Regions from separate parts of the Homo sapiens genome. Here all the other regions are reported to be linked to region 2. Evidence: microRNA targets listed by miRTarBase, many of them from high-throughput screens and not tested one by one. Region 2 holds a microRNA gene; each other region holds the end of a gene's coding sequence.

What was found. Region 2 holds the annotated microRNA hsa-miR-4708-5p (AGAGAUGCCGCCUUGCUCCUU, at 1,461-1,481, shown strand). A microRNA usually pairs through its seed, bases 2 to 8, with sites in the 3' UTR of a target mRNA and lowers its output. Matches are read on the target gene's strand: a 7mer-m8 pairs with bases 2 to 8, a 7mer-A1 pairs with bases 2 to 7 and ends in A, and an 8mer does both.
Region 1: the mRNA of CTXN1 is a reported target of hsa-miR-4708-5p. Seed matches in the 3' UTR shown: 8mer at 965-972.
Region 3: the mRNA of LRIT3 is a reported target of hsa-miR-4708-5p. Seed matches in the 3' UTR shown: 7mer-A1 at 3,122-3,128 and 8mer at 3,076-3,083.
Region 4: the mRNA of CSRNP2 is a reported target of hsa-miR-4708-5p. Seed matches in the 3' UTR shown: 7mer-A1 at 2,417-2,423.

The regions. Positions count from the first base shown.
Region 1 is chr19:7,920,946-7,926,015 of GRCh38, reverse strand. CTXN1 (cortexin 1) reads left to right here. Exons shown (of 2, transcript NM_206833.4): 1 at 1-49; 2 at 458-1,525. The coding sequence starts at 478. The coding sequence ends at 726. It overlaps SNAPC2 (small nuclear RNA activating complex polypeptide 2), which reads right to left. Exons shown (of 5, transcript NM_003083.4): 2 at 4,474-4,593; 3 at 4,243-4,311; 4 at 3,669-3,981; 5 at 2,766-3,571. The coding sequence ends at 3,252. It overlaps LOC124904629 (a long non-coding RNA gene), which reads right to left and starts at 611. Exons shown (of 2, transcript XR_007067120.1): 1 at 180-611. RefSeq lists a silencer at 497-586 and an enhancer at 3,848-4,450.
Region 2 is chr14:65,331,565-65,336,635 of GRCh38, reverse strand. MIR4708 (microRNA 4708) reads left to right here and starts at 1,453; the gene lies at 1,453-1,519. RefSeq lists enhancers at 205-354, 415-514.
Region 3 is chr4:109,869,979-109,875,048 of GRCh38, reverse strand. LRIT3 (leucine rich repeat, Ig-like and transmembrane domains 3) reads right to left here. Exons shown (of 4, transcript NM_198506.5): 4 at 2,734-5,070. The coding sequence ends at 4,260. Among named protein-coding and RNA genes, the nearest start is that of LRIT3, 24 kb to the right of the region's middle.
Region 4 is chr12:51,059,096-51,064,165 of GRCh38, forward strand. It overlaps CSRNP2 (cysteine and serine rich nuclear protein 2), which reads right to left. Exons shown (of 5, transcript NM_030809.3): 5 at 2,110-5,070. The coding sequence ends at 4,651. LETMD1 (LETM1 domain containing 1) reads left to right here. Exons shown (of 9, transcript NM_015416.5): 9 at 266-1,329. The coding sequence ends at 336. Among named protein-coding and RNA genes, the nearest start is that of LETMD1, 13 kb to the left of the region's middle.

The DNA of each region.
Region 1 (5,070 bases), not on the chromosome of region 2:
AGAGAGCGCGGCCGCCGGGCGGTCGGTCCCCGTCCGGGTCGAAGCCAGGGTGAGGGGCGCGCCGGGGCGGGGGCGGTGGGGGAGGGGGTCCCAGGCCGCCGAGAACAAAGGGAGCGGGGGCAGGGGCCGCGGGGACCGTCCCCACGCCGCGCGCCCGGGCCGCGGCCGCGCTTTCGCACCTGTTGTGTGCGGCCCAGGCCGGGCGCGGCTCCGTTTCCCGGCTCTCAGCGCCCCCACCTGCGCGCACGGCCAGAGTTGGGTCCCCGCGTGGTGGTGGCGGCGATCCGGCGGGCCGGGCATGGGCGTAGCCCGGGGACCGAGGCGCGGGCGGGGGATGGGGTCGGGCACGTTAAGGGAGGCGGCGGCGGCGGCGGCAGGAGGGGGCGAAGCGGAGGAGGCGCGGGAGGGAGGGCGCAGCCTCATCCCCGGCGCCCGGGGCGGGTCCCCTCCTCCGCAGGGCGCGCGGCGATGTGAGCCATGAGCGCGACGTGGACGCTGTCGCCGGAGCCCCTGCCGCCGTCGACGGGGCCCCCGGTGGGCGCGGGCCTGGACGCGGAGCAGCGCACGGTGTTCGCCTTCGTGCTCTGCCTGCTCGTGGTGCTGGTGCTGTTGATGGTGCGCTGCGTGCGCATCCTGCTCGACCCCTACAGCCGCATGCCCGCCTCGTCCTGGACCGACCACAAGGAGGCGCTCGAGCGCGGGCAGTTCGACTACGCGTTGGTGTGAGGGGCGCGGCGCCCCCTAGCCGGCCCTGCGCCGGGGTCTCAGAGGGCCGGCCCGGCGGGGGGCGCCGCGGGGCCAGGACTGCGCTCAGGATCCCGCCCCGGAGCCCCCAGCCCGGGGGAGAGGGGGAGGGAGTTGGGAGAAGCCCAGCCCCTCCCCCTCGAGACCCCTCCCATGTCCCTTCCTGGCCTGGCCGGAGCCCCACCTCGTGCCTTTATCCGCCCTGTCCCTTCCTCTCTGCGCATCTCACCCGCCCGGCTGGCCCCCACCCCCGACTCTGAATCCCGGGCGGGAGGAGGACCCCCGCACCGCCCCCTCCCCAGCGTGTAAGTGGCTCTGCTATTGTGCGTCCCTGGAAGTGGGGACCCCCTTGTCCCTCCTCCCTCCCCTGTTGTCTGGCCGTCGTCAACCCCACCTTGACTGAGTGTTGAGCCCGTCCTTGGGCTCTGGTCCCTGCGGGGCAGGCTCTCCCGGGCCCACGGGGCGGACGCTGCATACCAATTTGCCCTGCACCGCCTGTCCCGGAGACGGAGCCCGAAGGCCTGCCATGGCGGCTGTGTCGAGGATGCGTGGCGCCTGCCGTGGCGGGACAGCGTGGGCAGGCTCATTTCTGCCCCCAACCCGGGCCCCAGGACAGGTCAGCGCGCCCTGCCCCGGTGCCCACCGCTGCCCCCCATCCGCCCTCCTGCCACTTGCCCCTGACCCCCCTGCCGTGCCTCCCGCAGCCCTCCCATGCCGTTCCACTCCTCCCTGCCTCTGAGCCGAACATGATAATAAAAGCTATTATTGAGCGCTTACTGCATGCCAAGTAGCGTGCTGAGTTGGCACCTCCTGTTTATAGCCTGTCTCCTCTTCGGGATCGTGAGAATGAGCCAGGCCCTGTTAGCATCCCTATTCTACAGGCCAGGAGACCGAGGGCCAGGCAGCTCCAGTGACTGACTTGCCCACAGTCACATGGCTAGAGTCTGGTAGGGCTGGAAGTGGAACCCAGGTCTGGCTTTTGCATGTTTTTAAAGCTTCCCAGGGCTGCAAAGACACCAAGATCACAAGCACCTTTCACCGGCTTTGGGGGGGGGGGCTGATGTGTAACCCCCAGCTGCCTCCCCTCCACACACAATTCTGTTGATCTGGGGAGGCGCCGGGGGTGGTGAGAGAGACTCAGCCCTGTGGGGAACTGGGAGGCGCACCCTCTGCCAGCCCTGGAGGGAGGCTCCGACGACCGACCGTACCTGCAGCCTAAGCCTCCTCCCCCTGCCCACCACCATTGGCAGCGTTTGTGGGTCTGGTGCGGTGGGGCGGTGACCACGGACGGAGTGGGCTGGCTGTGCTCCAAGGCCCTCCCAAGAGATGTGCACCCCAGGGGAGCCGTGTGCAGTGTGTGGGGGGAGGAATGAGCGTTTCTATAAAAGGCAGGCTGGGTGAATGCACAGGCTCCGAGAACGGAGAATTTACCGACTTGGATTACTAGCTGGGCGTGGGACGCGGTGCCGTGGGAGGACATCTGCTTCCCTCTCTAGGACCCGACCCTCGGTCCACACCCACAGGGCAGGTGAAGCTGATGGAGGGGGCCTCAAGCGGGGTCCCAGCACCCCCAGGGGTTTGGGGTCAGCCCTGACTCCAGTACCCCTCCCTCCCCGCCTTCTAGGGATCCTTGAGGTCCCAAAGCCACCCCAGGGGACACTCCACTCCCACTAGCCTCCTGCCACTCGGGGCAGCCCACCCCTATCTATCTTCCTCTAACCGCCCAGCCTGGGGCTCAACTCCTTCCACCGGGTCACCCCCACTCTCTGCTGCCTTCTCCCCTCCACCTGTGCGATGTGATTTTGCCCTACTCTGAAACCCATCCCTGACGCCTGTCCCCAAGGTGCCCTGCCGGCTCTCCCCATCCACACTTGTCAGCTTCACAGTCACCAAGGGGCTCCTCACCCCAGGCCTCATCACACCAGTCAGGTGGCAGCTCTCCTCCCTGGCACACACCCCCAGCCCTGTGACCCCCAAGCTCTGACACTTCAGGGCCCCCACTTCCATCTTTAAGTCACAGGTGAAAGAGAAAGAGAATGATAACTTTATTCATGGTCACAGAATACCCCCGGGAAGGGGAAGGACCTGGCAGCAGGGAGTAACCACGACTGGTCAGTTGAAGAAGGTGAGGATGCTGGCCCCGAGGTGTACAGGAAGGGGGAAAATGTGCGAGGGCCTTTACGGTGGGCAGTGCCAGCTATGGCCCCCCAGCAGACAACAAGGCACAGTGGGGCTTGGGGACTGGGGGAGGCCAGCCCTGTCCGCCTGTCCTTGACATCAGGAGGCTTGTGAGTGGAGTCCTGCAACCCCCACCCAACCCCTGTACAACGGGGGTTCCATTTCTGAGACCCCCAAAGTATGGGGCATCTTAGAGGCCCGCCCCACAGCTGAGCATCATCTCAAGGACCTTCCCCCATGACGGGATCCTCAGAAAGAGCCAGGGCCAGCCGAGCAGAACCGAGGGGCAGGGCGGGGGGCCTGGTGTGGCCTCCTGCCCGCCATGCCCCTCACCTGGCAGGGGTGGCTGCCCGACCCAGAAGCTCCAGGGGCACCAGGAACGGGTTCAGGGGACAGATCCCAGCTGCTTGCCAAGGCGATTTCAGTTCGCTGTGCTCGGCCTTCTCGGTGGCTGGGGGGGTCTCCTCTGGTGCCTTGGAGCCAGCCCCATCCCCTTCTGCTGCAGGCCCCAGGCTCCCTCCAGCGGGAATGGGCTGGGGGGCTGTCAGGCGTAGGTACGTCTCCGTCATATGCTCAACCAGGGCTGTGCAGGGCAGGAGTGGCAGCTCCTCTGGAAGTGACATGAGCAGGTCGAGGACCACAGCGGACTCTAGTGATGGATGGAGGAGAGGGGTAAGGGGACACCCCTGCCTGCTGCCAGGGACCCTTGATCCCTCTGCTCCTGCCCCCTCCCTCACCCTTCTCACCAGCTGCTGAGAGCTCGGGGCTGCGGCCACTTCGGGAGACAGAGGACAAGTACTTGTAGATCTTCTCAAAGTCCACAGCAAAGTCTTCTTCAGTGGAGGGACCAGCCGACGACTCAGAAGGTTTCTCAGGGGCAGGGTCAGGAGTCCTGGGTGCGGAGCTAGGTGCAGCAGGGGCAGAGCTAGGTATTTCAGGGGCGGGGTCTTCCTGTCCTCCAGGGGCGCTCAGGAGCAAAGGCTTTCCACGGGCCTGCGTGGGCTTGGGGGGCTTGGAGTGCAGGAGGGTGACCGGTTCCGTGGCCGCGATGGTGAGCACCTGGCAGGCAGAACAATCAGGGAGGAAGAGGAGCTGGGAAGTCTTCTCACCGTCTACACATTCCCCCATCCTCCCTGCCACCCTAAGATGCTCCTCAGACAAGAGATGGCCTCAGAGCCAGGGACACTGAGGCTCGAGGTGTCCAGTGACTGACGGAGTCCACAGAGCTGGCAAAAGGGCCCAGGACCCAGGTTCACATGATTTGGCCCATGTGACCCTGTCCTCTGGGACACCCTGACCTGCCTGGGGGAATGGCGGTACCTGCGAGAAAGCCACTGCCAGGGCTTCTTCCAGTGGCCCTGTTATCTTCTCAGCCAGATCCGTCCAGACCTGAGTGAAGCCAGAGGTACAGGGTCAGCCCAGGGATCAGCCTGCAATGGCCCCCCAAGCCCTGCTCCTCCTGGGGATCCCCTAATCAGGTTATCCCCCGCAACTCCCACCTACCCACCAGGGACCTGCCCTGGACAGCCTCACCCTGTTCATCTGCCTCACCTCTATGGGGGCTGGGGGCTGTGCCTCCCGGCGCCTTGGTCCCTGAAGGCCACCCGGATGCACTTTCTGAATGGCCTCCCGGGCTACGCGGCCCTTGAGCTGCTGGAGGAAGACCCGGATCTAGAAAGGAAAGAGGCGGCGGAATGAGGCTTCTATGAGCTCAGGGCTGCAGCAGAGAAGCCAAAGCCCAATCCCTTGTATGCTCTGGGCCCCGCTACTGCGCCTTAGTCTCCTGCTGGCCCGGTGTTAGGAGTCCCAGTGACTGCCAAGGCCCCTACCCCACCCAGAGCGTGACCAGCTACCTAAGGAAGTTGTAAGGCCCAGGCCAGTTCCGGCTCCTTCACGCAGCCAGGGCCCAACCCTATGCTGACTACTACCCCGTTCAACTCCCTTCTTCGTCCCCTCTTCTCTATTCCCTCTCACTTCAAGCTCGTATCCTGTCCAACAGCATGCGTTGCTTTTCGCCCGGACTCGGCAGCATCTTACTCCCAGTTCATTCCGCCCGTTTAGCCCTCGCCTCACCCACGCATTACCCCGAGGCTCGCCCCGCCTTTAAAGCTTGCCCTCATCCCGCCCACGCCCCTCCCACGCCTTACT
Region 2 (5,071 bases):
CTCTTGGAGTCCATGCTCAGAGTGATCCTTCCAAGGTGTGAGTCCAATCATGTCACTGCTCTACTCAAAGCCCTCCAATGGCTTCAAAACAAAATCTAAAGTCCTTACCACCACTTGCAGGGTCCTCAGTGATCCACTCTGTCACCTCTCTCATGTCCTCTCCTGCCCACAGTCTCCTGCTCACTACTTTCCAGCTACACTGGCCTGCTTGTTCTTAGAACTCACCAAGCACACTCCTTCCTGAGAGCCTTCGTGCTTGCTGCTCGCCTTGCTTAGAAAATTCTTCACAGACTCAGATGACTCACTCCCTCCTTCTTCAGATTTTGACTCAAATGTCTCCTTACCAGAGAGGTCTTCTCTGATCTCCCATCTAAAAAACCACATTCTCTTAACCATGTCACTCTACCCTCCTTAATCTGCTTCATTTTCCTTCAAAGTACTTCCCAGAAGCTGGTGTATTATACATATTTATTTGCTGACACTCATCTTGGCCTCTCAAAGTATGTCTTGTCTCATTAGAACATAAGATCTAGGGGGTGGGGGAATAGGGGAGGGATAGCATTAGGAGAAATACCTAATGTAGATGACGGGTTGATGGGTGCAGCAAACCACCATGGCATGTATATACCTATGTAACAAAGCTGCATGTTGTGCACATTTATTCCAGAACCTAAAAATATATATATACATATATACACATATATACGTGTGTTCCTTATACATATATATATATAAGGAACATAAGATCCATAAAGCCAGGGGTTTTATCTGTTTTGCTCCCTGTTTTTTGAGACAGCCAAGTGTAAAGGGGTCCCCTGAGAAACTCCGACTGGCCTGCGCACTGGGAGAACAGGGTGGAGCTGCAGAAGTTCACACCCTTTGCAGCAGGAAGGAGCCTGGCCTCTCCTGATCCAGGGTAGTACATGGGATTCAATCAGTGAGGCAGGAAAAACCAGCAAGCAGGACTCTCACTTTGCTGAGAGTCCCTGTTTCCATTTATTTTCCTTTTTGCCCAATAAGTTCCATTCTTCTCACCCTTCAAAGTGTCTGCAAGCCTAATCTCTCATGGCTGTGTGACAAGAATCCGGCTTTTAGTTGAACTAAGGAGAAAGTCCTATAACACTTTAGCCTCAGAGCTTACAACAAAACATAATTAGTGCTCCATATATATTTGTTCAATACTTATGTATTCCCTTAATGTTTGTTATCTGTTGGGCATGGTCTCTAGCTGCTATCTTTACACACATCCTGTCTCTTCAACGGGAACATACGATTCTTAAAGGCCAGAGCTGAGTCTTAAAGCTCAAGGCCTTAACATAAAGAGGCCACTCCAAAGTGTATGTTGTTGACATTTGGAGGGAGGATACATTGGGGCAGTAACAGCTGTTGTTATGTTACCTACCCGCTCTTGGCAGGGCCCTGAGAAGCTGAGGTATGAGACACAACAGCATATTTAGGAGAGAGATGCCGCCTTGCTCCTTGAACAGGAGGAGCAAGGCGGCATCTCTCTGATACTAAAAGGAGAATACGGGAGCACCTTTCTTACCTACATTTCCCCTGGAACTAGTCTTTCCACTTGCAAGTTTGTTTACAATTCCACGTTCTTTGCAACTGAATGGGGCCTCACCCTCATTAATTGGTGGCAAAGGTCACTCCTTAACAGATGCTAAACAGAAGCAGAGCAAAGTTAAGGGTGGCTAAGGTCACACAGAGTCGTTGCTCAAATTTAGGAAGGAAACCCACCTAGTGTGAGGTGGGGCCCCAGGAGGGGCATCTGAGCCCCAAGAGAGCAGCTCTCTTTAGCCCCTGCTCTAGTTTCTTTGCAGTTCTCCTAAAGAAGTTCACCAGCAAGGCCATTTACCAGACACCAGGGAATCAGGCCACTTTCAAATGTTGATAGCATTACGCTTGCCAGAGGAGAAAGGGACAAGTGAGGAGACTGAAGACAGTGCTTTCAAGAAAAAGAAGAAAAAGATATTGAATGTGCACTCGCTAAGCCAAAAAAGCAAATGCCAGGAAGAACCGTGAGCCTTGTTTGAAGCCAAGTCTGCGCAGAAGAGTCCCAGGTGTAGGGAAGGAGGAGCTGAGGTGGTCTGAGGACGCACAGCAAATGCCCTGGGGGGTGGGGCGGGAGGAGAGAACATATTTTAAGCAACCTTAAAAGACTCGTTTTAGCATTCCGCAGGAAATGAAAAGCAGATGTGTTGGTTTGGAACTTGTTTACATATTTGGCCTCTGAGAAGCTTCCAGGACAGTTAGGACTGGAGAGAAGGGGTATTTTAGGCAAATGCTATAGTCTCCACTTGGAGAGAGTGGGGCCCTTCATTGGCTCACCTGCTTCCTGAGAAGCAAGCATTTAGGCTGAAAGACCATCATTGTCCCTAAGACAGGTCTGGCTAGAATAAACCAGGATTTGATATACAGAACTGGTCTCCTTGTACCTTCTTACAGAAACTAAGGGTTGTTGCACCTCCTCTCTTGCTTTCAAGTCACACCCACTGGGCAGAGAAGTGAAATCAGAGGCCTGGACATTGGGAGGATGATGGGATGGTTCACACCAAAGGTCCTGAGATTTGCAGAAGGCTTGTTAGAATACAGATTACTGGGTCTCACCAGCTCAGCCGAGCTAAGATGAGGCCAGTGGCTACACACTGGAATCATCTGGAGATTAAAATAGACTGATAGCTGAGCCCTGTTCCCACAGATTCTGATATTAATTGGTCTGGGGTGTGACTTAGGCATTTTTTAAAAATTATTTTTAATATATAATAGAGAGGGGGTCTTACCATGTTGCCTAGCTGGTCTCAAACTCCTGGCCTCAAGCAGTCCTCCTGACTCAGCCTCCCAAAGAGCTGGGATTATAGGCGTGAGCAACCATGCCCAGCTGACTTGGGCATTGTTTAAAGCTCTCCAGATAATTATAAGGTATAGCCAAGGTTGAGAACCATTGAACTATTTATCTTTTACCTGCTCTCATCATTCCATCCCTAGATTAACTTCAATTTACCTTCATAACATGTTCACAAGGTGGTTAGGACCACAGGAGACCGTGGGATCTAAATTAGGCATAAACCTGGATTTAGAGAAGGGGCTAAAAGAATATTGCTCTCAGAGACATCAACTATCAAAAAATCTATGTAAATGCAGGCAATTCCCCTTTTTTGTAGTATGTCCAGGAAATGGCGCTCCTTAAAAGATATTTTTTAGTTGCTAAGGGACAGGAAAAGTAGCAATCTTTAACACTTATTGAGCATTTATTATGTGCCAAGTACTCTTCCAAGTGCTTTCATTTTAAATTAATTTAATTTCCACAACAGCTCAATGATGTTGGAGCTGTTATTTTCCCCATTTAGCAAATGAGGAAACTGAGATACTAGGAGATGAACTAATTTGTCCAAAATCACACAATTAGTCAGTGGTAGAGCTGGCTTTCAAATTTTGGTGTGCCTCTGAATTACGGAGACTACGGAGACTCCGCTGAGAAAGAAAAATAGCTCAGATCAGTCTGAGCTATGTGAAGTATACAAAATTTATCAAGCCTGGAGAGACAGGAGTATGGGACTTCAGTCACATCTCTGCGCCCATGTCCAGGGCAACTGTGTAAAGGCATTTTGTTCCTGCTTAACTGCCTTACCCATTATCTTCATGTTGGAATTTGTGATGCAAAGAATAACACATACCCAATCAATAGCTTATGTTATTTTAGTATAAATTCTTGGTAAACAATTTAGGAGCTGCCTCTTCTTTATTCCTTAAAAATCCTCTTGTAGCTATTTCTAATCAGAGTGTGGGTTTAGGGCAACTTGAATCTATGCTCTTGGGTGGCCACCCTCAAGCTTTGAGCTTGAATAAACTTGAAGCCATCTTCACCATGTTAACAAGAATTCTGGACAGAAATATAGTTATGATTAAGCATTAATTAGGCTGCACTGTGGCTCACTTCCTTGTAACAACAGGAAGTGAAAGTTGTGGAGTACTAGATCCTGACCACTTGCATCCTCATTGTTCCTACAGATAGTATTTCTGTCTGAGGTTAGAATCATCAGGCCTCTGATTAAGATAGATAGAATCTCTGACATTAGAATCATAAGGCTTTTGTTTAAGAATTGCTTAAGATGTTTTTCAGATCCCAAATTTGAGCTGATGCCAACAAGTTTGAAGACCCCCAGAGGAGAGCAGAATCAGCATGAGAATATAGTTTCTTCATCTCCCTGTTCTATGACTTCATCCTGCACCCTTGGGCCAAGCAAAGATCTCCACACTTCAGCCCACTCCAAAATCACTAAAAATTCTAGACCCAAATTCCTTGGAGAGACTGATTTGAGGTTTCCTCCCATCACATTCAGCTGCCCTACAATTAAACCTCTTTCTCTCTTGCAACTAGGTGTTTCAGCGTATTGACTTGCTATGCACATTGGGCAATGAAACGATTATGGTTACAAACTCTATATTTAATCATCTCTTCAGAATCTCATTAATTTAGGTTGTGAACCCCAAATATCTGAGACAGGTCTCAATTTAGAAACTTTATTTTTTCAAGGTTAAGGATGCACCCGTGACACAGCCTCAGGAAGTCCCATGACATGTGCCCAAGGTGGTCGGGGCACAGCTTGGTTTCATACATTTTAGGAAGACATAAGACGTCAATCAATATATGTAAGATGTACATTGGTTCAATCAGAAAGGTGGGACAACTTGAAGCAGGGAGGGGGCCTCCAGGTCATAGATAGACAAACATTCTTTTGAGTTTCCAATTACCCTTTCCAAAAGAAGCAATCAGATATGCATTTATCTCAGTGAGCAGAGGGATGACTTTGCGTTCTGTTTGTCCTTTGTCCAAAAGGAATTTCCTTGTAGACAAATTGTGAGGCAGGTATATAGCTTTTTTATCTTAGTAGCTATCTCCTTTAAGGAATAGAATGGGAGGCATGTTTGCCCTAAGCAGCTCCCAGCTTGACTTTTCTCTTTGGGGGGGTCCAAAGATTTATTTTCCTTTCACAAGGTTGACACTGTTCAAAATACTAATGACCAGGCTCTAACCGAGACCAACTGGATCAGGATCTCCTGGAGT
Region 3 (5,070 bases), not on the chromosome of region 2:
CAGTGAAGTCAGAGTTTCAGGTTTTGTCCATCCCAGATGGCTGCCCAGCACAACTGAGTTTTCCAGGAGGTGCAGGCCATAGAAACTGCGGTGGAGGTGGCCTACTAGGCAAATGCCAGCTAGCGATTAGTCAAGGTTGGTGGGCCAGTCTCCATGGCTATCCTGGGTGTTAACGGTGAAGGTGTCTTTCAGCAGGTAGAGAAGTCTATGTTTGGTCCAAGAGGGCATGAAGTAGTCACTGCAGATATGATGGGGCAGGGGTCCTCATAATGCTGATACAAGGTGCACAGGCAGTGCCTGGGCCCAAAGTGTGTCTGTGACGTGAAGGTAGAGAAACTTTTGTGCACGAGGCAGCTCCTCATAGACCAGATAGAGTCAAGCTGGGGTTAAGGGCTAGATGAGTGTTGCCTCTGTCCTGTGAAGATGGAAGGTGTGTAAACCCACTGGAGCACACCTAAACGTCTCAGTAGCTCTCTTCCTTCCTTTGTGGTAGGTACCTCATCCACTTTCAGCCCTGGTTGTAAGGAGGCTCATGCTGGATTGTGCTGCTTGCCAGGCCATAAACAGCCATTGTGACAGAGCACAGGAATAGCTTCTGTCACGTCTGCCTGCTCTGGGCCCAGAGTCCCACCTGACTGTGCTTCCTGGAGAAGCTTGACAGGATCTTTAAGTAATGAAATCAATCTTCCCATCTTTGGAGATAGCTGCCAGCTGTTGTATTCTTGGCCTGTGAATTGTAGACCCTTCCTGTTCAGTACGCACACCACAGCCAGGTGGCACTTTTCCTGTTGGGCCTCTGCATCAGGTGTTTGAGCAGGCTTCGAATTTCTGCTTGTGTCAAAGGGCCTACAGTAGTACCCCCTTATTTGAGGTTTTGTTTTCCACGTTTTCAGATACCCAACTTCAACCACAGTCCGAAAATTTTTAATGGAAAATCTACAAATAAACAATTCATAAATTTTAAGTTGATCTTGGAGGTGGTCCAGTCAAGCTAGAGTTTCAGGTTTTGTCCGTTTCAGATGGCTGCCAAATGCAAGTAGGGCTCTTGAGTGTTTCCAGGAGGTGTGGCTGTGAGTTGTCTGATGAAATATTTTGCCATCCTGCTCCGTCCCACCCAGGACATAAGTCATCACTTTGTCTGGAGGATCCACACCATGCACTCCCTGCCCATCAGTCACTTAGAAGCCGCCGTGGTTATCAGATGGACTGTCGTGGTATCACGGTGCTTGCATTCCAGTAACCCTTATTTTACTTGACAGTGGTCCCAAAGCACAAGAATAGTGACGCAGGCAACTTGGATATGCCAAAGAGAAGCTGTAAAGTGCTTCCTTTACGTGAAAAGGTGCAAGTTCCTGACTTAATAAGGTAAAAAACAGAAAAACAAAAAACCCTCATATGCTTCTATGAAGCGTAAGAAACCCTCATAGGTTTCTAAAGATTTAAGGTAAGAATGCATCTTCTATCCATAAGAATTTTCTTAGTCTGTTTTCTGTGGTCATAACAGAATAGACAGGCATAAGGGAGAGTCACCAGAACAGGACACTGAGTAATTTATAAAGAAGAGAGGTTTACTTTGGCTTACAATTCTGGAGGCCTAGGAGTCAAAGATCTGCCCACTATATCTGGTCAGCTTCCAGTGAGGCCTCTGCCATGTCACAGCATGGCAGAGAAGTGGAAAAGGAAGTGAGTGTGCCAAAGGGAGCCAAGGCAAGGAAGAACCTCACTTTGTAACAACCAGCTCTGACAGTTACTAACCGAGTCCTGCTAGACAGAGTGCTTGCTTTGGGATCCGAGATTAGTTCTTCCTCACCCTCGCTGTTTGCGGAGGTGGCAGCTGCTTTCTTAACTGTGTCCAGGTGGTGACTGGCAATGCCTGTGGTGCTGCTGGGGGTAATCTGGTGCACTCAGGATGATCACAGCTCACAGGCCTCCAGGTCAGCCAGGTGCAGAGTGGCAACTCTGAGGTGAGCCCCTATGATTTGGATGTGCTGCTCATGGGCTGCTGCTGGCAGCACCCAGCAGGCATTGTAGGGGGTGGTAAAGCCCTGGAGAAGCCGCACTGTCTCACTGGGAGCATGCAGAGGAACAGGGATGGCAGCAACATGCCCGTTGGTGATTTGGTGACTTTGCTAACGGCATTAGACCGGGGTATGTTGGAGAAGTCTCTTTCCCCAGTTGGCAGACAACAGATAAGCTTTCTGTGGAGAAGATGTACTTGAGCCTTCTTGGTCTATGGGGTCATGATGCCAGGACCTTTGGGGACGAGGAGCTCCTCTCCCACAGCTGAGGCTAGAAACATACCAGCTGGTGGTTGGCTCTTCAAGCCCAGGGTGTCCCCCAGCCTACAGCATTCCTACCACCCTCCTCCTAGAAGCCCACCTTCCTGTGGGACCAGAGTGGTCTTAAAAGTAATTTTGGCAAATTTTACCTGGTGGTGACCTCCAAAACAGAGGCACAAAGTAAAGATAGAAGGCAGCAACACATGTGAAAACAGAACAAAAACTGCCAGACCCACTGTAGAGTGTTCCTCAGACCTCACCCAATCTCTCGATCAGAGCCAGGCCCTGGCCACTCTCCCTTGATCCTCCTGTAGAAATGGGTGTCATCACTCATTGGCTTACTCAAATTTCATCCTCACTGCTAGTTGTGTTCTGAGGTTTTGGGTGGTCCCAGCTAGCCAGCTTCACAAGGGTGATTTATCCCTGTCATCAAAGATGAGTCTTAGACACCATCTAATGCTCAAGTAGTTTATTCCAGCAGTGCTCTTACAAGACAGAAAGCAGGAGCTGGCTGGTGTCATAGGCCGGATATAGTCAGAGGTCAGATGACCAACTGACTAGGAGAGCTTCTATTTGAGGACCGTTCTCAGAGTTTGGGAGATCTTTCCCATTTCTTATACATGTATTCAGTCTGGGTCAATTACCAAGTGTTTCTTTCATAGAGCAAGTTTAATCTAGTAAGGTTAGGCTTTGTTCTAAAATTTATGAAAGTTGCATCTGTGCTGAGGTGGCCTTGTCTTCTGGAAATCCCTAGGCCAGGTTGCATCCTGCTAAGTGACATGTAATATCACCACTGTGAGATGCTTGAGTGGGCCTTATCGCTATCGTTAATCTTAAAGCCATGAGATGTTTCTTGTAGTATACTACAGTTATTAAAATATTCTCTTTCTAAAAAAACTAAATTTTATTTGTGAACTCCTTTCCTATGTATTTAAGTTCCCCGATGTTTTTAACCTAGGAAAAGAATCTAACCAAATGAATCCACTGAAGCTTCCCTTTTAAAGTCCTAAAATATCCTTTGGGGTTGTAAAACAGACTTTCAAAGGGCAGTAAGTAATTTCAAAAGCTTTCTCTTTATCAAGAGAATCAAAAGACAATATGGCAAAAGACAAACAGCTTGGCTCGTGATGCTTTGGCTACTTGTATATCTTCTGACAGAGCAGAAGAAAGAAAGAATGAAGGAAGGAAAGGGAGGGAAGACAAGGAAGGAAGAAAGAAGGGAGAACATAAGAGCAAACAGCAAAATATTAAAAGATTGATTTAAAGTTATTTTTAAATATCCATATAATCTGTCAGTCGATGTGTTTAAATGCAACAGTTACCATTTTTAAAGAAATGGTCTATTTGTCATAATCCTCTTTGTATACTTACTTTTGCTAATACCTATATTTCTAAAGAAAAGCAAAAATTTTTCTTACAAGAAATATGAACACAACTCTATAGTATCACAATGCATAATGGTACCAAGAGACAGAGCCCTCTCTCTCCCGTGAGTTAGATTTAACCTTAGTGAACACAAAATCCTTTATGATCCCACGCTCTCCATTAGGCAATGTCAGAAAACATCCACAGCAAATGCTATAATGCACTTCGAACATGAATAAACATCAAGGCTTAGCTGGTTTTGCTAATGTTTCCTCATGACTCAAAAAACTATATTTTTAAATACAGAGTTCACTTGCTACTTTCACATGAACTTATTTTTAAGAACTAAAACATTACCCTAAAAAGTATTAATAATTTATTAAGCACCACTCTAAAAATTATTTCTGTAGACCTTTTCCACACAAGAAAAAAAATCAACATTATTTGTCTTTTCAGTTCAGAGGTCTCATGGTATTTTTTAAACATACTTAAAAGCATTCCATTTGTGATTTTCATGTACAATGTGAAAGTCTGTCCAAAAGTCATCCAAACCTAGGGTCAATTATACCCTTAGATGCTAGTTTTGTAGCTCACATGCACCTGAGCTGCAGAACCTTAGCAATAATACTCTGGTCTGGAACCTTCACTTTTAAAAGTCACCTGAGATTCCACACTTGACCTAGAACAAAGCAGCAATTTCTCTGAGTCATCCCTGTGGCTTCGTGTCCAGAGCTCACCTACACTTTGAGACCTGGGAAACAGGGTCTCAAATTGGATATAAGTCTCCTTTGCCAAATCATCTTCCCAAAAAGGTTCTGATTTACATTGCAGTTTGCAAACTTTGTACAACAAGAAACAAATCAATGGTAAGATAACAACACAGGCAGTACTGGTCACCACGAGAAGGAGAGACCATTGAGAATCATCTCCTTCAACTCTTTCAGTAGAAAAGGTGATGCATTGGTCTTTCTGGGGAGGCACTCCTTTTGGACAGACACAGGCCATGTATTGCCCACCGGGTTCCAAGCCATCTATGGTTACTTGGTTCTTGCTGGAGTCTGCATTCAACAGCAGCAGGTCCTTCCCACCATACTTGGAATACAACACAGTCACTGCAGAGTTATGTGTGGTGTTGATCATATTCCACGTCAATGTCACACTCTCTTTAGTCTCACTGACCACCCTGAGGTTTTCTATTGCGGCATTTGTCTCCGTAAGCATTGTTTGATCCAACAATGCCAGCTCTTCTTTCTTACTTGTGCTGGCTGGAGGAAGCTTACTTCCATTCTTTGCCACCTTTAAATTTCTTTTCCCACCTTGGTGGAGCTGGAATGATCGCTTGTTGGCCATGGTGGTACTTGCTGAGATGCTTGTGCTCAGAGTTGTGGTTGAAGAAACAGTGGAGGAGGAGAAAGGAGATAAAGAG
Region 4 (5,070 bases), not on the chromosome of region 2:
GACTGGTGTTTAGTACCATTACCATCTCTGAATTTTCTACTGCAATCACATGAGAAATAGAGGATGAGTTGATACGAATATATAGTAGAAGGAAAGGAAGGCATGCATACAGGGGCTGAAACAAAGAAGGGGAACTTTGAGAAAAACAGCTTCTTCATTCCACCCCTCCCTGCACTTGGCTTCCTGCCTCCAGGCTTAAGCCATATATAACAAGGCAGTTATAAGGCAGTGTTCCCAAGCCAAACCACTAACACTGTGTTTTCAGAAGCTGAGCTGTCTCTCTTGCTGCACAACGTGGTCCTGCTCTCCACCAACTACCTTGGGACAAGGCGCTGAATGAACCATGGAGCGGATGGCATTGTCCTGCAGTCGTATAGTATAGCAGTGCAGGAACAAACAGCACTTGCCAGCAAAGTCTGTGTGTACTGTTAAGTGTGTGGGAGGCAGAGAGAGGAGCAGGGGCCATGGGCTTCACAGCATGGCACACATGTGGGAACTGCAGACATTCCTCTCACAGCTAGAACTGAAACAAACCCTCTTGCTAGGGGTGGTCCGTGTGAGGTGTCATCCTGTCCCCCTCATAATTACTAATAGCTGGAACTGGCAGCAGCCTCTACTGGGCTTTTACTGTGATGTGTTCAGTTCATGTCCTAGGAAGTCAGCTTTTGCCCCAGGTGGGAATCCTTATTTGGCTTAGGACTGATCCACTTCCATGTTACTTACATCTGTGGGTTTTTGTTGTTGCTGTTAGAAAATTTGTGGCTGGTGAAAACAGCACTCCTTTGGCTGGAGCACATGTGTCCGTGCATGTACTTGGGTGTTTCCCTCCATCCTTTCTGATATGACCAAAAATCAAGTTGTTTTGTTTTTTGTCACCTTCACTGGCATGGGCTAACCACTTCTTTTTCAAACCCTCTGAACACCTTTTTCTGATGGGTAACTTGCAGGAATATTCTATTGGAAAAGATAACAGGAAGTACAAGTGCTTCTTGACCCCTTCCTCAATGTTTCTAGCCTTCACTCTCCATTGTCTTTTCTGGGCTGTATTACAGCCCTCTGTGGATCTTCAACTCTGCTGCCTCCACTGTGATGCAGCAGTCCAACTGTAACTGACAGTGGCTGCCTTCTCTGGGCCATGGATCACACCTGTAAGGTACTAATTACTGCCCAGCCTGGGGAGATCAGGAGAGGTCTGCATAGTTAGTAAGTTGGGTTTAGCTTTTGTGTGTGCATCAGTGACTTAGAGTTCTGTAATAACTTATTGTAAATGCATGAAGCACTGTTTTTAAACCCAAGTAAAGACTGCTTGAAACCTGTTGATGGAAATGACTTATGCATACTCTAATCATTTTGCTGTCTCCTTTTACAAGACTGACATAATCTAACAAATGGGGATTTAATTGGTTGGCATAGAACCTTCTGATGGGATGGAAGTTTTGCAGAAACTGATTTGAAGTTGATCTCCTTGCTGGACACTTTAAGGTGATAACAAGGAAAAGAGAATTTCATAAAGTTAATGGAATGAGGCCGGGCGCGGCGGCTCACGCCTGTAATCCCAGCACTTTGGGAGGCTGAGGCGAGCGGATCACAAGGTCAGGAGATCAAGACCATCCTGGCTAACACGGTGAAACCCCGTCTCAACTAAAATAGCAAAAAATTAGCCAGGCGTGGTGGTGGGCGCCTGTAGTCCCAGCTACTCAGGAGGCTGAGGCAGGAGAATGGCGTGAACCCGGGAGGCGGAGCTTGCAGTGAGCCGAGATTACGACACTGCACTCCAGTCTGGGCGACAGAATGAGATTCTGTCTCAAAAAAAAAAAAAAAAAAAAAGTTAATGGAATGAGAAAATGGGAGCCCAGAGTAGGGACAGGGCTAAGCTCCAACAGAGCAGGAGCAAGGCCTGCTTCAGCTGAACAGGTACACAAGGGCATATGAACCAAGTCCAGCTCTTGGTACTCCAAAGAGAATATTCTATTTTTCCATCACAAAATGTTTCTATTGTTAACATTAATTCCTAACTGACCTAATTAGTTTTATAACGAAGCTAGAGAAGCATCCTTTTTCTAACAAGTAACTGAACTGTGGCCTGCCGAGACAAAGAGTAACACATCATTCTTTTGAATATTTCTTTAATATTACATTTAAATATTCTCTTTAAATACAGCATTATCACAATGTAAAGAACCTAAAGGGGAAAAAATTATTTTCAGAGAACCAGACAAGCTTTGGATTCACATTGAAAATACTACCTGTGTACAGTATGTGAGAAAGGAAATTGGAAAATAATAAGGGTTGTGGTAATAAGAGTCATTTATCTAGGCCTAGACTGGGACTGAAGCTATCTGCTTCTATGATCAGAGGCCTAGCTTTCCTAGCAACCATGAGCTAGAATTCTGTCCAACTCAGGTAGCACCAGAAGTGAGATGGACTAGGTTGTAGAGAAGGCCTTTCGCTTGACAAGACAGTTAATGCTAAATGTTAATATTTAGCACTTAAAAGTTTGGGATCAGTGTGAGTCACAACTGTAGCGTTAATGAAGGGGATGGACTTAAATTAAGAAACTACAGGTTTTCAGAAACATATCTTGTGGGTTGGCAATGAGCTTAATAATTACAGATTCATATTCCTGGTTTGATCCCAAAAGCTAATGTGTTCCTCATCGTGCAGCTGGAATCTACTTCCTAGATTAAGCCGGAGCCTTCCTGCAGAGACAGTGGGCAAACCTCACCCTCCCCTTCCGACACAAACTTTGAAAAAGATTCTTTTCTCCATAAAGCCAAATTCCCAATTAAGCTTCAGTCCTGTGTTTGAGGGTACCAGTCTAAGGTAGGGGAGTCTAGTTCAGTTCTGGGTAGCTTCGAGAGCTCAGGTACTTAAAAGACTCTCAACTGTGTTTTGTGAGGCTAGGGGATGGGGAGAGATAAGGATCTGTGTACTTAAGTTCCCCTCCAAACTAAAACCAAGCAAAAACTGGAACAAATAGGAAAGGCAGAATGAACTAAAAAATGTTATGTGTATTAAATACAAATCTTTTCAGGCTCAGAGTTTAGAGACTTCAGGGGTGAAATGCTGCTGCGACATACGTGATGGTTTCTGTAAGACACCAGGGCCTTAATATCCCACCAGAAAAGGCTTTATGAGCAAGATAAGTAGGAGTAGTGTCTCCCCCCCAACACAGTTTTTCACTTTTGTGTGTGTGTGTGGTTAATAAACCATACCAGAAGTAAAGTATGGTGTAAAGGATGCTTGAGAAGAATAGTTTTGCTCCCTACTGCCTCCATTTTAGAACAGAGACAAAGATCACTTTGCTAATGAAAGGAAATCAGTGCTGTTCAATGGAGATCTTAGAACACAGGATGAACAGGAACTGTATTCCTCCTGACAGAGGTAAGAACTGAATCAAACTGAATGAGTTCCATTCTATACGCTTCAAAGGTTATAATTAGAACTTGAATCCTTTGGAATCTGGGAGTTGCATGTAGCATTTAAGAACTGGTTTGGCTTCCAATTTTTATATATCATCAAGATGGAGGGGTCCAATAAACATTTGCAATTCTTGGAATTGAACTGGAACAGTATAAGAACTCTAACCCGCTATGTTGAAAACGACCATGAGGGTAGATCCAGGAAAAAAGAACAAAAACTGATTGGTGACCTTAAGATTGCCACATTCTACATTCCACTAAAGCTCAGATCTCACAAAGAGGGAAAAACCTGGGTGAAAAAACAAGCATGGCACAAATATGTCATCTTTCCAGATAGCAAGCAGCCTGTTCCCGCTGCCTCCTTTGGCCACAGTTAATGCTCCACATAGGCCTCCTATGGGATGGGTGAGCCCCAGCCGAAAGCTGCCTGACAGTGCTAGTGTCAGACACGTACAGAAGGCTCAGGCTCGTTATACCATATCCCCAGCCAATCCAGCTCTTTCTCCGAAGGAAAAAGGATGGAGAGAAAAAAGACACATAGACAAGTTTAACTCTAGTACTTAAGAACATGTGGAAGAAACAATTCAAGTTACAGACCAGGAATCCCCAGTGTGGGGAACAGGTCAGAGAACACCAAACATGTCAAATATTAACTTATTTACCAAATATGGGATTGAAGGAAGGCAGGTTACATTTTTGTAAATCCTGGAGATTTTGTACAGAAGCAGAGACCCTTCCACTCCCTCCTCCCTAGACTCGACCAGGTGACTTTCCAGTTTGAAGTATTATGACACACCAAAATGGGATATCAGAATAACCACCGAGAAAAATGAGCTTGTACTCTGCCTGGGGCTTGGGAGAGAAAGGGCTTTGCCATGCTCTTCAAATTCTCGTGTTCTGGTCCCTACAGAAAGAATAGCTGCTTGAGTTACCCAGCTTTTCCTGTGAGATCCTAGTTCTTTGTTCCAGTGGCCCAGAAAGCTTAATGTTCAGCACTACGCAGCTTTCTTTGCCCCAAGACTATCCCCAGATCAAGGTAGGGCTGGTCTCCTTGGTACTGTTTCCCTTTTAAAAAATACTCAAACAATCCTTTCCCACCCATTCCCCAAAGACCCCAATAAAATAACATGGGAGCAGCAGCTGCTTCTACAGTTTTGTTTTGAAATGGTGTTAGATAAAATAAGGGAATAAATAGAGAATGGGTAAGAGGCAGGACCTCTAGCGCCTGTCACACTGCCAGAGGGAGTTCTAAGGAAGAATCTTCAGGGGGCCGATCCTCATTCTGCTGGGAGGTCTTCACCATCCCACAGCCCTCTTCATTGTCCGTGCGGAAGGGGAGGCTTGAGGGGGACCAGGAAGGGTGGAAGTCTTCATTTTCAGGCTCCTCAGGGTTACAATCTTCGGGCAATAGAGCTTCTAGGGTGGGTGTTTTCCCCACCTCTGATTTACAGAGGGCAGCTGGGTCTGTGGAGCTACAAGCCACGAGTGAGGTAACAGGGAGAGAGAAGACATTCAGATCCTTCTCCTTTGGGAAAGAGGCTGAGCCTTCTTCCGTACCAGGCTCTCCTTTCACTCCCAAGACTGGCCTCTGCTCCACTTGATAATAGACCAGGGGCCCACTGTTCAAGTAGGATGGGCTGTTCACCGT